4 linked regions of the Homo sapiens genome follow. The protein of the gene in region 1 purifies or fractionates together with the protein of each later gene. This does not show direct contact. Each region holds a gene or a part of one and is shown in the gene's direction. Other genes may lie near its edges.

Region 1 (3,568 bases):
TCTGAGCTAAGCTATAGTGTCTTTCACGTTTATCTCCTTCATCTCACTTAAACGGCCATTGTCCTGGTCCAAGTCTTTATTCTGTGTTACCAGAATTATTGCAAAAACCTCTCAGCTAGTGTTCATACTCCTGGGTTTTCCTGTCTATTTCTGTAAGTAAGTGCTGCCTGATCCTGCTAAAATGCATGCTACTAAACTTTTAATGATGTCCCAATATGTATAGAAAAACCTACATGCTTTGGCACAGGCTTTTTTTGTGTCACTATTTTTTCTTATCTTTCTAGGCTAGTCTTCTCCTGCTTCCTTATTATACCCTATACTTACAGTGGCCATATAATTTTCCAAATGGGACACTTAAGTGTGAAAGGGGCCCTAGTAGTAATTATGTTGGGGAAACAGGCCTAAGACAATACTGTTCTGTAATAATGATGCATGTGCCTCTTTCTCCTAACTACCCTCTCTGTCTTGACCTTGCCAAAAGAATGCTAATCTTGAACCATAACTTCAATTTTATGGTGGCATTTATGGAAAGAATATTTTTTGCCTATTAGGCAAATCAGGATGTATGGTTACTCTAGCTATACTCCAACCAGTTTGAATGGGCTCGCCATTTTCCATATGTACCTGTTCCTTTGCCTTCACTCACTGTTCCCCTAGATTGGAATTCCTTTACTTTTTTCTGTAAATCTAAACCTTGCCTTTCCAAATCCAGCTTAAAAAATACTGTGTCCACGAAGCCTTACTCAGAAATATTCTCTCCCATCCCACCTCTCTTTTACTAATGAAGTGCTTTCTCATGGTGTGAATTACTTTGAGTTTTAGGTACACACACACACACACACGTACTGAAGATGAAGACATAATTCTTGTTGGATTACATATTCCTCATAGGCCTAGCATTGGGCCATGCCTAAATGGGATCTGCAAAATGTTTGAAGAATGAATTAATTGGTCAGGCTAGGGCGACTGAGTATTTGGGGCTTTCAATTTATGAGTCATCCATTTTAATGTGATTAAAGCAGTGAGAAAAGGGTTTCCAAGAACTGAAGACTGAGCCTCAGGTTTCAATGTGACAGTGTAGCAAAATGGTTCAGGGCATAGATACAGACTTCTCGAGACTAAATTCCAGCTCTGCCATTTACAGCCTCTGTTACCTTAGGCAAGTTAACCTTTCCTCCTGTTTCTTCATCTGTGAAATGGGAGTAATCATAGTAGCCACTCCATGGAATGGTGGTTGAGGATTCAAACAGTGCCAAGTAACATTGAACTAACATTCACAGGTGAGCACTCTGTGAATGTTGGCTACTGTGACTAATATGATCATCTTCATAGTACTCTTACAGGTAGGTAAGAAAATGCAGACACCCAAGACCAAGATGTAACCGTGGAAGAGCTGGAGGAAATGCTACACCAAAATCTTAGTGGGTTTTTTTTCTTGATGGAAGTAGTCTGTTTTAGAGAAGTCATGAGAGAAGATGATCTCCACTTAGTAAGAAGTAACTAACCTGTAGTCTTTTGAGGCACCATTTCAGTAGAGTGGGTAAGGCACAAGTTTGGTGTCAGGAAACTAAAAAAGGAATGGCTAGAAGGGAAGGTAAATGGACAAGAGGAAGGGGAGGGAGGATAAGATACACAGCTGTGTAAAAGATGTTTCCTTAGTAAACTTTTTCTTCAAGCCAGATCACACTTTAAAAAGGAAGACACCCTGGGGGATAAATCAATAACCTATGTGTTCTTTTTTTGACATGATGTAAATTATTGATTAAAATCGGTACTTAAGTGCCAGTAACTTTTGCTATGGGATAAATGAGAAACCAGGTACAGGTTGGTGAGCTTTTATGAAAAACAAAACAAAACAAAAAAAATAAAGCTTGAGGTTGAAAAGGAATAGTTTTTAATTTGGGATGGGGAGTATTTATTCTTAGTAAGGTTCCTCTTTATAAGTTGGGGTGACTATTGCCTGGCTTACTTTGTGCCTTGAGGTTTTTCTCAAGAGTACTAATAAGGTGAGCCCTCCTTCATGTTCACCTTGTTCGTTTGCGTTTGATGAAATGGCTGCCTGGGTTTGGAAGGACAAGTTGGAACTGGAGATACCCCTGTGAAGTGAAGCCAAGTGAGCCAAGATCCTCAAACCATGACTCTAATATCTCCAGTGGGGGGTTGAAGGCAGAAGACCAGGGTTGCAGTTCCAGTTTGCCATTTACTGGCCATATGTTTTTGAACAAGTCAATCAGAATCTCCATTTTTTTCTGTGGAGATTATGGCCATCCATGAACATACTAAACTTATAGTACAAAAGTACAAAGTACAGAACTATAATGGATAATTATTCTTGGCTCCTGTTTTGACATAAATACCCTGAGATTCTTAAGTTAAAGTTTCCTAACATCTTAGCCCTGCCAACTGATTTTACTGTGGCAGTTACCACTAAAACTCTCAAGCCTTAGTCTCATGTGTACAATCCAGTCATTTCTGTCTGACTTTGGTTCAGTCAGTACACCTACTGAGTGCCTCATATGTGCCAAGCGATGTGCTAGGTTCTAGAGATACAGCAGTAAGACCTGCCTTGATGCAGCTTACAGTCTTACAGGGCACATAGCCATTGAACAGGTAATATATCTCAAGGGATCCATCGCAAGTGCACCAAATGTGGTTAAGCGGGATGCTACAGGAGTAGGTCAGCAGGCCTGACCTACTTCCCAATGGGTGAAGAGGAAGTCTAAAGCCAGGGGTTCTCAAAACATGGTCCTTGGACCAGCCATGTCACCATCACCTGAGGACTTGCTAGAAATGCATATTCACAGTCCCACCCCAGACCTACTAAATCAAGCTCTGGAAGTGGGCCCAAGCAATCTGTTTAATTTGATTTTGATATACATTAAAGTTTGAGAACCACTGGCCTACAGGAACTAACATTTAAGCTGAGCTCTAAAGCTGCATGATCTAGTGCGGTAGCCACTGGTCACATGTGGCTATGGAGCACTTGAAATGTGGCTGGTTCACATTGAGATATGCTTTCATTATAAAGTACACACCAGATTCCAAAGACATACTGTGAAAAAAAAGAATGTAAATTGCCTTATTAATAATTTTTGTATGGATCATGTGTTAGAATTGTATTAGTTCTCATGCTGCTAATAAAGACATATCAGAGACTGGGTAATTTTATAAAGGAAAGAGGTTTAAATGATTCACAGTTCAGCATGGCTGGAGAGGCCTCAGGAAACTTACAATCATGGTGGAAGGGAAGCAAACATGTCCTTCTTCACATGGTGGCAGCAAGGAGAAGTATAAGTGAAGTGGGGGCAAAGCTCCTTATAAAACCATCAGACCTCGTGAGAACTCACTTTCTATCATAAGAACAGCATGAGGGTAACTGTCCCCATGAATCAATTACCTCCCACTGGGTCCCTCCCATGACACATGGGGATTATGGGAACTACAATTCAAGATGAAATTTGGTCTTGGCCCCTCCCAAATCTCATGTCCTCTCATTTCAAAACATAATCATGCCCTTTCCAACAGTCGCCCAAAGTCTTAGCTCATTTCAGCATCAACCCAAAAGTCC
Region 2 (3,568 bases), on another chromosome or scaffold:
TTCATCTGATGTTCTTTTCCCTTCCAGATCTAAATTGAACTCAACATTTTACATTCCATCTTTTCTGAAGATTGTCCTACAATTTGGATTTTGATCATGACAAAGAAGATTAAAATTTCATTAGCATGAATGCAATTTGTTAAAGCAGACTGATTTGTTTCTAAGATATTTTTGGTTTTTTTAAAACTGATAATAATGCTGAATTATCTTAAGTGAGATGTTAAGCCCACTTTGTTCTTTTAATGTAATGGAGCTTATGGGTAGAAGACCATGTCTACTAATTACAAAAAAAAAAAAAAACCATGCATTGCTGCTTTTCCTACCACTTCCAGTAAGAAAATGGGTGTTTTGAAGAAATCATTTGCCTTGTCCTCACGGAATCTGATTAAGCCCTGGCCTCTTGATTGTATAGAGTCATTGTGTATATTCCAGTTACCTAGATATTCCCTTGAGATTTTGATACAATTTGAGGGAGGCAGAAGTCTGCAGTTGAAGAAAAAAAATAAGTCTGTTTGTCATATTTAAGTAGCCTGTGGCTATTTTTATACTGATTTTGATATCATGTTCTTTTCATAGTCGTATTTTGCCACCGTAAACATAAAAAAAAAAAAAAAGATTTCCAAAATGCCGTTTTCAGAACCTGGGTTTTAATAGCAGTATTGAATTTGTAAGCTTAGTAGTTGCAGAAATTGAACACTAGGTGGCACTCAGTTATCTTAACAGGGGAAGTACTGATACAATTGTTGACTTTTCTTTTACTATGTGTAAGAAATACCCCAAACATGAAAAGATTGTTTTGATCATATGCATGTATGTAGAATATTTTTGCAGAGCAGAAAGATTATGTTAGAAGTGTGATTTTTATTTTCAGAAGTCATATACATGTAAGCTACAATTTTGAGTGCTTTATAAACACTTAAGATATATATATAAATTTTAATTTCATAGCAACTTGTAAAAAATAAAATACTTGTTGAAAAGCCTTTTTCAACATATCCCTAAGCTAAGGGAAGAGGAAGGAATAACAACTCAGTGAAAAGATGGTCTCCAGTTTCTGAATGAAAAAGCTACAGCTGAGAAATAAAATAAAATGTCATGCTGCAGAATATGTTATACCCTTATTTTGTGTTAAGGATATATTTTATTATGTGAATGGTTTTGTTTTTGTTTTTTGTTTTTGTTTTTTGCTTGTATTGGGAATTAGCTTTACTGGTAACTTCCTTATTTAGTTTTTAGTGGTCAACTCTAATAAAATGAAACTAGGGCTGAGCTAGTTAGCCCTCACTAGCCAAACTGAAACTCTATGCAACATTAAAAGAAGAGATCCATCATGTAGCTTGTGACACTTTTATTTTATTAGTCACCGGGGAACTTTTCAGTGATGAAAATACACAGGGTAATAAACCTTCACATGGCTTCAAAAGGAAAACAAGCAAATCTTCTCTAATCTACTCTTACTATAATTTCCTAAGTGTACACCAAACTCTGGATTTAAAAATCTGAAGTACTATAGAACATTAAGTTGAAGAATGGAAATTAAGAGTACGTATTCATGGTTTATATTTCTTATTCTATGGAGTTCGTGAACACATCTAGGTGGAATGCATCTGAGACTAAGGGCTGGTTTTTAATCCTCATAAGAAACCAGCCTTGAAGAATTAACAATTCTCTTCATTGGTATTCTAAACCTCCTAAGATATTTAGGCTTCTGTACATAAAAGTGTTTTTGCTAAATTTACAGTATATATAGATCCTTTCATATTATTTTACTAAGAATGTTTGAACTTTGCATATTTGATATAGTTCCTGGTAGGAATAGCACAGCTCAAACATTAGTTTTTCTACTTACCTCCTCTAACACGTGGTTTGTCTGGAGAGTTTCTAAAAATTCAGCTATAACCCCAGTTCATGTATTTACTGGTGATTGTTCTTGCTGAGGTAGTAACAGCCCAATCTTGGGCTGTTAAATCCTAGGAAATCTCGAATCATAGTGATTAAAATAGTTGGGGTAAAGTTGTAGCTTATATGCAATACTACTTGGAGGAATTCTTCTACTAATTTGTATTTAATGTGGAAATTGTATAGTTTCATTGATTTAATCATAAATAATGGAAATGGTCTCCAAGAAGTTTTATTTTTCATTTTTTTGCTTATACACTCTGATTCCTATAATACAGTGCTATAAGCTATGCACAGAAAATAAAATGTTTGAAATCCAAGAATAATGGTTCTTACTGCTAAGAGGGAGTAATAGTTATTACTAATGATTTTGATTGGGTTGCATTTTTGTTGCAATGTTTATTCCACTTGCAGTTAGAATATGAATATGTTTTATCACTAGTGTGGCTAAATAACCAAACATTTGTGTAAAAAAAAAAAAAAGCCAAGATTTCATTGTTTGTTGAATATTTCTTAAGCATCTGGCCCCTAAAGAGACCGCTTCTTACCAAGCCTGTAAACTATGCATGATGGAAATTCTTGTATTTTATTTAGGAATGGCTGTTGGTTTACTCACCACATCTGTGGAATCATGGCTATAAATGTTTGCTTACAAACTCTTTGTGACTTGTAATTTAACTTAATCTCATCTAATGTAAATATTAGATTATGATGTTCAGTAACATCTTCCATAGGTATAAACTGCTGTCATTATTGATTTCAGAGTAACTCTGAGTAATCAAATAGGTAAAAGCATGTTTTGAGTAAAATAGCTAGATTTATACTTTACTTGTATACAGACTTAACAACAACCGGTATTGACTGGATTGACAGCTAAAGTATCAGAATGAAAGCAAGGTTTTTTTGATGTTACCTGACTGTCATAAAGATGAAAATGATTTGTATTGGTATGAAATGCTTATCTTTATTCTACTTCGTAAGGGTAAGTTTTATTTATACTCTTTGGACTCCCATGAACTTTTGCACACTGCTTTGTGTTTTTGGTTTACCCTAAACTACCATCCTTTTTATCTTTGCTTTTTTTCTTCCTATTCAGAAAAGAGCAAAATGTGAAAAGACACAAGACTCTCAGGTATAGAATGAACTGAGCAATTTGGAGAATGTATTGGACTTTGTCCTCTCTTATTCCCCCCTCCTAGCCCTGCAAGTTGCTAGGTACTTGTGAGGCAGTGTACTGGAGAGGGGAGAGCATGGATCCTGGGGTCAAAGGGCCTTTGCCCCCACCCTTACTTGGCCCTCTACCTGCAGGTGACCACTGGCACATTCTCCTGCTTGTCTCAGCTTCAGGTTCTTCACCTCTAAGATGGGGATGATGAAAACAGTACCTGTCATGCAGAATTGTTGGGAGGATTGATAATTTAGATGTTTATACATGTAATGTACTTAGATCAGTGTCTGCTCTTTTCACTTGATATCCAGTACTATGTAAGATAGAAGGTGCATGTCTTCTGTATTCTGTATTTCCCATTTCTTTTGCGTGCAGTCTTTGATTCGTACAATAGAAGGAACACGTAGAATGTATATTTGTACATTCATGTCAACATAGTATTTGAAATTGCTACCAAACTCATTTAATTTGGCATAAGACTAACAGATGAAGTCTCTCATT
Region 3 (3,568 bases), on another chromosome or scaffold:
CGTGGTCTTTAGAAGCAGTCTTTAGAGAGTGTCCCCTCCAGGCCACTCCCCTGCCAGGGCCTTGGATTCCCTTTCCCTAATAATCAAGTCTGATGCCTCCTCATGGAGTCAGAGGCTACCCCAGGAGGTCCCACTCCTTTGGCTGAATTGGCCACCCTCCAGGGATGGCACCTGGCCTTCTGGGACACATTTCAGAGGAGGCCCACCCCCTTAGACCTGTCCTGCTACCTCCCTCCTCCCTGCGCCTGGAGCCCTGGACTCGGGAGAAGGGGAGCATCTGTGCCAAGTGGCTGTAGAGGACAGGGAGGAAGGTGGTGTGAAGAGTGCTGTAAAACTTGCCCTAAGGAATTTAATCTTTGCTCTTTTCTTTTTTCTTTGTGTACCTCCCTCCAGGAAGCTCAGGTGACATTAGAATGTGCTATACCCCAGAAATTCCATCGATCTGTCATGGGCCCCAAAGGTTCCAGAATCCAGCAGATTACTCGGGATTTCAGTGTTCAAATTAAATTCCCAGACAGAGAGGAGAACGCAGGTGGGTCCCCCATTAGCCCTGCTCTGCTTGTTAATAGTGGCGCCTCCCATGTGAGAGGCGGGGCTGTCGCACATACTGGTGAGGCTCTTTCCTGTCTCTGCTGGAAAACCATCTATGTATTCTGGGGGCTTCCAGAGGTTCAGGGTCACTCCCTGGCCTTTAAAAGATGGACCACGTCAGTTACTGACAGAGTGACCAGGTGACCTTCATAGGTCCTAGAGACACACAAGGTAGCCAGTCCCAAGGCGATGAGGAGCGTGCAGCCTCATCCTCGGGTGTCCCGAGTTCAGTCCCAGTGATTCTCATGACATCGTTTGGATCGCATGAGCCCCGTCGTAGAGCTTCCTCCTCCACATCTCCCATCACTGTGGGGTGTCCCCTGTGAGGCAGGCAGCTGCAGCCTCTGGCTGGCCAGAGGGCACCATCCAAGTGGCCGGCAGTTCTAGGAGAGCATTCAGTTCCCCGTACCATGCTTGCCCCCAGCTCTGCTCATGCACCTGGTGGTGGGGAGGCGACCTGTGGGATGCGGGTCGGTTGCCTCTCTCTCACTTGCTCTGCATTTGTGAAACAAAAGGTATGCCCTCCACTCTGTGTTATCAGATGCCCGCCCTCCACTCTGTGTTATCAGTCTTGGTTGAGCTGTTTGGGCGGCAGGTGGCCCTGCAGCCTGCTGAGTGCACATAGTGTCATCTCTCTGGGCATCCAGGAAGCATGTCACACACAGCCATTCAAGCCCCTTTGTTTTCCTGAGAATACAGGGTGTTTTGAGTAGGAAACTAATAAACTCATACTGCACTCTGTCTATGTTTTACACTTCAGTGGTTATTTAAAACTTTGATTTTGATAGAATTTCACAGAATAGTATAAAGACACATCCTGTGGCACCAGTTTCTTTTCTCAACTTCTCCCCTTTTACACACGTTTTTTTTCTGAATGTCATTTTTAGACATGTCCCTTTATTCATGGTGGGTATTTTCTTAGAACAAGGACATTCTCTTACATAATTCTAGCACATTTATCGGAATCGGATTTAACATTATATAACAGTAGTATCTAATATGTTGTCGGTATTCAAATTTGCCAGTTTTTCTCCTTCAGAAACACCTACTTCCCCATCCTAGGATCACCCTTGATTTCAGGCAGGCGTCTGTCTGGTCTCCTGCTCATTTATTTACATCACACACCTCCTGGGTTCTGTCTTAGTGATAATTATTGTTGTGTCTGTTTTGTGACACTTATTGTTGTGGTGTCTATTTTGGTACACACGCGGTGTCCCAGTGTGGCCTGTAGGAGCCCCTCCAGCTGTCTTCTGTGTCCTGTTCACACGCCTCTTCACTTCTGGGGCTCTCGCTTTCTGGCATAAGGAGCTGGCACAGGTTTACCTTGGCCTTGCCCTTTCTGTCTCCCCTAGACCTCTCACCCCCCTTCCCACTGCCTCTCCTGGGTGGGGCTGCGTGCTGGCCGCCTTCCCTGATGAGCCCTGCCTCACAGTCAAGCCTCACTTGTGCAGTGGGTCTGCCCTGTGTTCCTCCCATGAACTAACTCATCTGATCTCACTGAAGCCTCTGCTGTAGTTAGTTGCTGTTAGCTTCATCTTCAAGGTGAAGAAGGGAGACACAGAGCTCACGGCCTCCCGGCAAAGCCTTCATTGCCGCCCCCCCCCCCCCCCCCAAGGTCTGGGAGCCCTCTTTGAGGCTGCTGTGGGGACGTCCTATCTGCTCTCCCTGACCAGACCAAGACCTCCTGAAGGACAGGAGTGGTTTTCCCTCCCTTTTACCACCCAGCACCCAGCAGGTGCCTCACAGACATATGCATTCTGAACAAGGTGTGGGGTCTCTTCCAGCAGCTGTCAGCTGTCCCTTTTCCCCTTTCTCTCTAGTTCACAGTACAGAGCCAGTTGTCCAGGAGAATGGGGACGAAGCTGGGGAGGGGAGAGAGGCTAAAGATTGTGACCCCGGCTCTCCAAGGAGGTGTGACATCATCATCATCTCTGGCCGGAAAGAAAAGTGTGAGGCTGCCAAGGAAGCTCTGGAGGTATGTGTCCATGTGCCCCCCTCCACCCCCCGCCAAGGCCCAGTCAGCAGGCACCTGGGGAGACGCGTGGCCTGGATGGGATGGACGGTTGCCCAAGCGGCAGTGGCAGTGGAGGTAGCCCTCTTGCTCCTACCGTGTGCGCACGGGCTGTGCTTCTCGGCTGGACACAGAGTTTGGGGAGGCCACTTCCCTTCACCAAGGCTCGGGGTTCTATAGCCCCTTTCTGGGACAGCTGCATGGGATCCGGCCTCTCAGGCCCACGGTGGGTGCGGGGGCTGTGGAAGGGTCTCAGCTGCAGGGGGATGAATGTGACCTCCAGTTGCAACGTCTCCCCCCGCGTGAGTGGGGTTATCAGGCCTAGCTCACCTTGTGTGCAGTCAGTGTCGAGTGCCACCTGCGTACTGGATGCTGCTCTCAGTGCTGCGGTGCCACAGCACACAAAAATAGTTCTCACGTTGCCGTGGAGAGACAAGCAGTCAACGCAGATATATCCTGTGGCAAGTGATGGTAAATGCTGTGGCAAGAAAGCAGGTTCTGGAGGTGAAGGGCGGTGGGGGAGACAGGGCAGGGAAGGTGAGCAGCGGTCTGAGAGTCCCTTGTGGCACCTCGTGGGCATTAGCCAAAGCCGTCCTGATCCCAAGGGACAGGGCAGGGAAGGTGAGTAGTGGTCCGAGAGTCCCTTGTGGCACCTCATGGGCATCGGTCAAAGCCGTCATGACCCCGAGGATGTGCCAGGAGTCAGGGCCTCTCCTCCTACGTGGGCCTGAAGGGGCTGCTGTAATTCAGGAGGGTAGGCTTGGGATGAAGGGTCTGGAATTTCTGTCTGCCAGCATTAGCCTAATGCAAATCTTTTCCTATTCTTTTCTATTGAGTTAAAGGTCCTGGTGGCATTGTCGGGTGGGGCACATTGCTGTTGTCATAGGGCTGTTTGCCTTGTGTTTCGTGGAGCCCCATTGCTGAGCTTACAACGTCACTCTGCTCTCAGCTCCCACGGCCTAACCA
Region 4 (3,568 bases), on another chromosome or scaffold:
TCATCAGGGATGAAGTCACTAACAACTGCCAGTCATGTGCCCCAAGGGTAGCCTCACCATGGACTAGTGGGCTTGTTCTGTGTAGAGAAGGGATGGATAGTGAATGCCAAGGTTAGTTCTAGCTGGATAAATTAGCCAAGGGTTTCAGCTGGATAAGTTGGCTGAGGGTGCTACAGGTCTAGCCTTAAGGCTGTCTCACTGAAACATTTTGGAGTCTGGAGTCATCTGTTCTGAATAGCGCCCACATAGTTTATATTTTTTTATTTTTTGAGACAGAGTCTCACTCTGTTGCCCAAGCTGGAGTGCAGTGGCACGATCTCAGCTCACTGCAACCTCTGCCTCCCGGGTTCAAGTGATTCTCCTGCCTCAGCCTCCTGAGTAGCTGGGACTACAGGTGCGTGCCACCACACCCAGCTAATTTTTTTATTTTTAGTAGAGACAGGGTTTTGCCATGTTGGTCAGGCTGGTCTCGAACTCCTGACCTCAGGTAATCCACCTACCTCGGCCTCCCAAAGTGTTGGGATTAAAGGCGTGAGCCACTGTGCCCGTCCACACATAGCTTAATTCTTGAGCACAGTAAAAATAGGGTGTACTTGGGGATTCAAAGGGAAGCCTATTGGATGAGTATTTGCCAAGAAGGAATGGAGCACCTGATTTTGCTGGTGATTTGAACCTTACTCTAAGTGGGATTAGACTGCCATAAATCTTGTGTTTGTCATTCCTGGGAGGGTCATCTTCAACTAAGATAGCTCCCCTTTTCTAGACTAGAGTTAGGAGAATAGTTAATGTTTCAGTATTTAGGACTGATTCTGATTTTGGATTTAAAGGAAACAAAGGTGGTGTGTGTTTTCTATTTTTAATTTTTAAAAGTTTTGTGTAGAGACTGGGGTCTTTTTATGTTGTCCAGGCTGGTCTCAAATGCCTGGCCTGTTTTATTTTCTTTTGAATTTGCAGATAAGTATTAGGATTATTAAATCTTTTTTTTTGTTTGTTTGTTTTTTGTTGAGACAGGGTCTCCCTCTGTTGCCTAGCCAATGGCATGATCATAGCTCACTGCAGCCTCAAACTCCTGGGCAATCAAGTGATTCTCCCATCAGCCTCTCGGGTAGCTGGGACTATAGCTGTGTACCACCTTGCCCTGCTAATTTTTAAATTTTTTTGTAAAGATGGGGTCTCACTTTGTTGCCCAGGCTGGTCTCAAACACCTGGCCTCAAATGAACCTCTTGCCTCGGCTTCTCAAAGTGCTGGGATTACAGAGGTGAGCCACTGTGCTCAGCTGGATTACTAAATTTTTTTTTGAGATGGGGTCTTGCTCTGTCACCCAGGCTGGAGTGCAGTGGCGTGATCTCAGCTCACTGCAACCTCCACCTCCCTGGTTCAAAAAAATTCTCCTGCCTTAGTCTCCTGAGTAGCTAGGACTACAGGCACGCGTCACCACACCCAGCTAATTTTGTATTTTTAGTAGAGATGGGGTTTCACCATGTTGATCAGGCTGGTCTTGAACTCCTGACCTCAGGTGATCTGCCCACCTCAGCCTCCCAAAGTGCTGGGATTACAGGCATGAGCCACCACGTCCAGCCTGGATTACTAAATCTTTACAGATGTATCCTGACTTTCTCTGCCTTTTCCCTCTGTATTTGCCCCAACCAGTGCAGGCCTGAGTGTTCCTTCCAGCATGTCGGAGGGGGAGTCCCAGACAGTACTTAGCAGTGGCTCAGACCCAAAGGTAGAATCCTCATCTTCAGCTCCTGGCCTGACATCAGTGTCACCTCCTGTGACCTCCACAACCTCAGCTGCTTCCCCAGAGGAAGAAGAAGAAAGTGAAGATGAGTCTGAGATTTTGGAAGAGTCGCCCTGTGGGCGCTGGCAGAAGAGGCGAGAAGAGGTAAGGTTATGGTACAGTTACTCTTGGGTGAGTGAATTCTGGAAAGGTGAGAACTGGAAGAGCAAAGTCTTAAAAGAGGCCAACCAAACTTCAATAGGTTGGGGGCTAGGAGGAGATGATCATATGGAGTGTTAAAATGGAGGATTTGTGAGATAAGTTTAATTCTCTTTCATATGAATTTCTTCTCAGGTGAATCAACGGAATGTACCAGGTATTGACAGTGCATACCTGGCCATGGATACAGAGGAAGGTGTAGAGGTTGTGTGGAATGAGGTACAGTTCTCTGAACGCAAGAACTACAAGCTGCAGGAGGTAGGTGATGCTGAAAAGGTGAAGCCTGGGGAATGTTGGAACACTGATGTTAGAGAGGAATTGGTGTTGGGAAGCTGCCCGTGAGGAGAGTATGTTGGGGTTAGATCGTTTCTGGGGAGGGATAGGGAATGGCTTCTCAGGATTATTACAGTGATTTGTGACTCTGTTATTCCACTGTCTCCCTTGCTTTCAGGAAAAGGTTCGTGCTGTGTTTGATAATCTGATTCAATTGGAGCATCTTAACATTGTTAAGTTTCACAAATATTGGGCTGACATTAAAGAGAACAAGGCCAGGGTAAGAATTTTTTCCCCATATTTCCTGAACTTATTGCAAAGAGACTAGCTACATTTATTATTGTTCCTTTTACACTCAGAGATTAAAACAAGGTAGTTTTGAAACAGAACTGGAATCAGCTGCAATGGCGATAAGAGTAGGGCTTCAGTTGTCACCTATGCCTTTTGTGTGGCTATAGATTGGGCAGAAAATGAGTGAACTTTTGCTTCTTTCTTCCCATAACTTTCATTGCTTGTTTTCATTGCCCTATTTAGTCTAAGTAAGTAAAGCTAAGAACAAAAGGAGAGAAATTTTAACAAACCTTCAAATTTAAAATATGTTAACAAGGGAAGGGATCATTTCTACTATAAGGCCTTTTAGTAAGTGCTTTGCCTCCCCAGGTCATTTTTATCACAGAATACATGTCATCTGGGAGTCTGAAGCAATTTCTGAAGAAGACCAAAAAGAACCACAAGACGATGAATGAAAAGGTATAGAAGGAGAGCAGACAAAGTTTGAGGCTGGTTTTTGGGGGTGGTTTTAAAAAGGACTCTGTTAATAATGAAGCTGATCAGGAAGGGACGGAAGGAGCTAGTGGGAGAGAGTTAAGAGAGGGAATTACTGCTGACCCTTGGATCCAACTTTGTTCCAGGCATGGAAGCGTTGGTGCACACAAATCCTCTCTGCCCTAAGGTAAGTAGTACCTGGTTAGTTTCTTACCCATATTTCCTGATGTAGTTACTCCAAACAGATTTCAGGGCACTACTCTTCTGTTCTATTCTGCCTCTCCCCACTTTCTTTGAATCATATACTGTCAAGATTAGGGCCCCTACGGGTCTTTTAAAGGGTGCGTCCTAATGCCCTAACCACGACACTTATCTCCTACCTCTTTCTCCTAGTGCTTATCCAGCTATTTAAATCATCAGGCATAATGGAGATTCAGAGTGTGGGGATTATCTTTATGGTGACCAGCAGGAGACCTGGCCCTTGCTCCTCTTAACCCTTGGGTTCCCCCTGCCCTTAATTTCCCAGTGGCCCCTCTAACAGCCCAGTGCCCCCACAGCTACCTGCACTCCTGTGACCCCCCCATCATCCA

What was found.
Region 2: the proteins of BPGM (region 1) and EIF1AX purify together in Homo sapiens (affinity purification with mass spectrometry, with the first as the bait; one large-scale study listed by BioGRID). This does not show direct contact.
Region 3: the proteins of BPGM (region 1) and HDLBP purify together in Homo sapiens (affinity purification with mass spectrometry, with the first as the bait; one large-scale study listed by BioGRID). This does not show direct contact.
Region 4: the proteins of BPGM (region 1) and NRBP1 purify together in Homo sapiens (affinity purification with mass spectrometry; 3 studies listed by BioGRID and IntAct, with this or other methods). This does not show direct contact.

What each region holds. Positions count from the first base shown.
Region 1 is NC_000007.14:134,653,304-134,656,871, forward strand, and holds part of BPGM (bisphosphoglycerate mutase), read left to right. Parts: intron 1-3,568. UniProt on the Homo sapiens protein: Plays a major role in regulating hemoglobin oxygen affinity by controlling the levels of its allosteric effector 2,3-bisphosphoglycerate (2,3-BPG). Also exhibits mutase (EC 5.4.2.11) activity.
Region 2 is NC_000023.11:20,124,771-20,128,338, reverse strand, and holds part of EIF1AX (eukaryotic translation initiation factor 1A, X-chromosomal), read left to right. Parts: intron 1-27; coding exon 28-33; 3' UTR 34-3,568. UniProt on the Homo sapiens protein: Component of the 43S pre-initiation complex (43S PIC), which binds to the mRNA cap-proximal region, scans mRNA 5'-untranslated region, and locates the initiation codon. This protein enhances formation of the cap-proximal complex.
Region 3 is NC_000002.12:241,235,613-241,239,180, reverse strand, and holds part of HDLBP (vigilin), read left to right. Parts: intron 1-393; coding exon 394-532; intron 533-2,411; coding exon 2,412-2,566; intron 2,567-3,568. UniProt on the Homo sapiens protein: Appears to play a role in cell sterol metabolism. It may function to protect cells from over-accumulation of cholesterol.
Region 4 is NC_000002.12:27,431,598-27,435,165, forward strand, and holds part of NRBP1 (nuclear receptor-binding protein), read left to right. Parts: intron 1-1,651; exon of another isoform or gene 1,652-1,656; 5' UTR 1,657-1,676; coding exon 1,677-1,886; intron 1,887-2,075; coding exon 2,076-2,198; intron 2,199-2,391; coding exon 2,392-2,493; intron 2,494-2,873; coding exon 2,874-2,963; intron 2,964-3,124; coding exon 3,125-3,165; intron 3,166-3,535; coding exon 3,536-3,568. UniProt on the Homo sapiens protein: Required for embryonic development. Plays a role in intestinal epithelial cell fate and proliferation, thereby involved in the architectural development of the intestine potentially via the regulation of Wnt-responsive genes.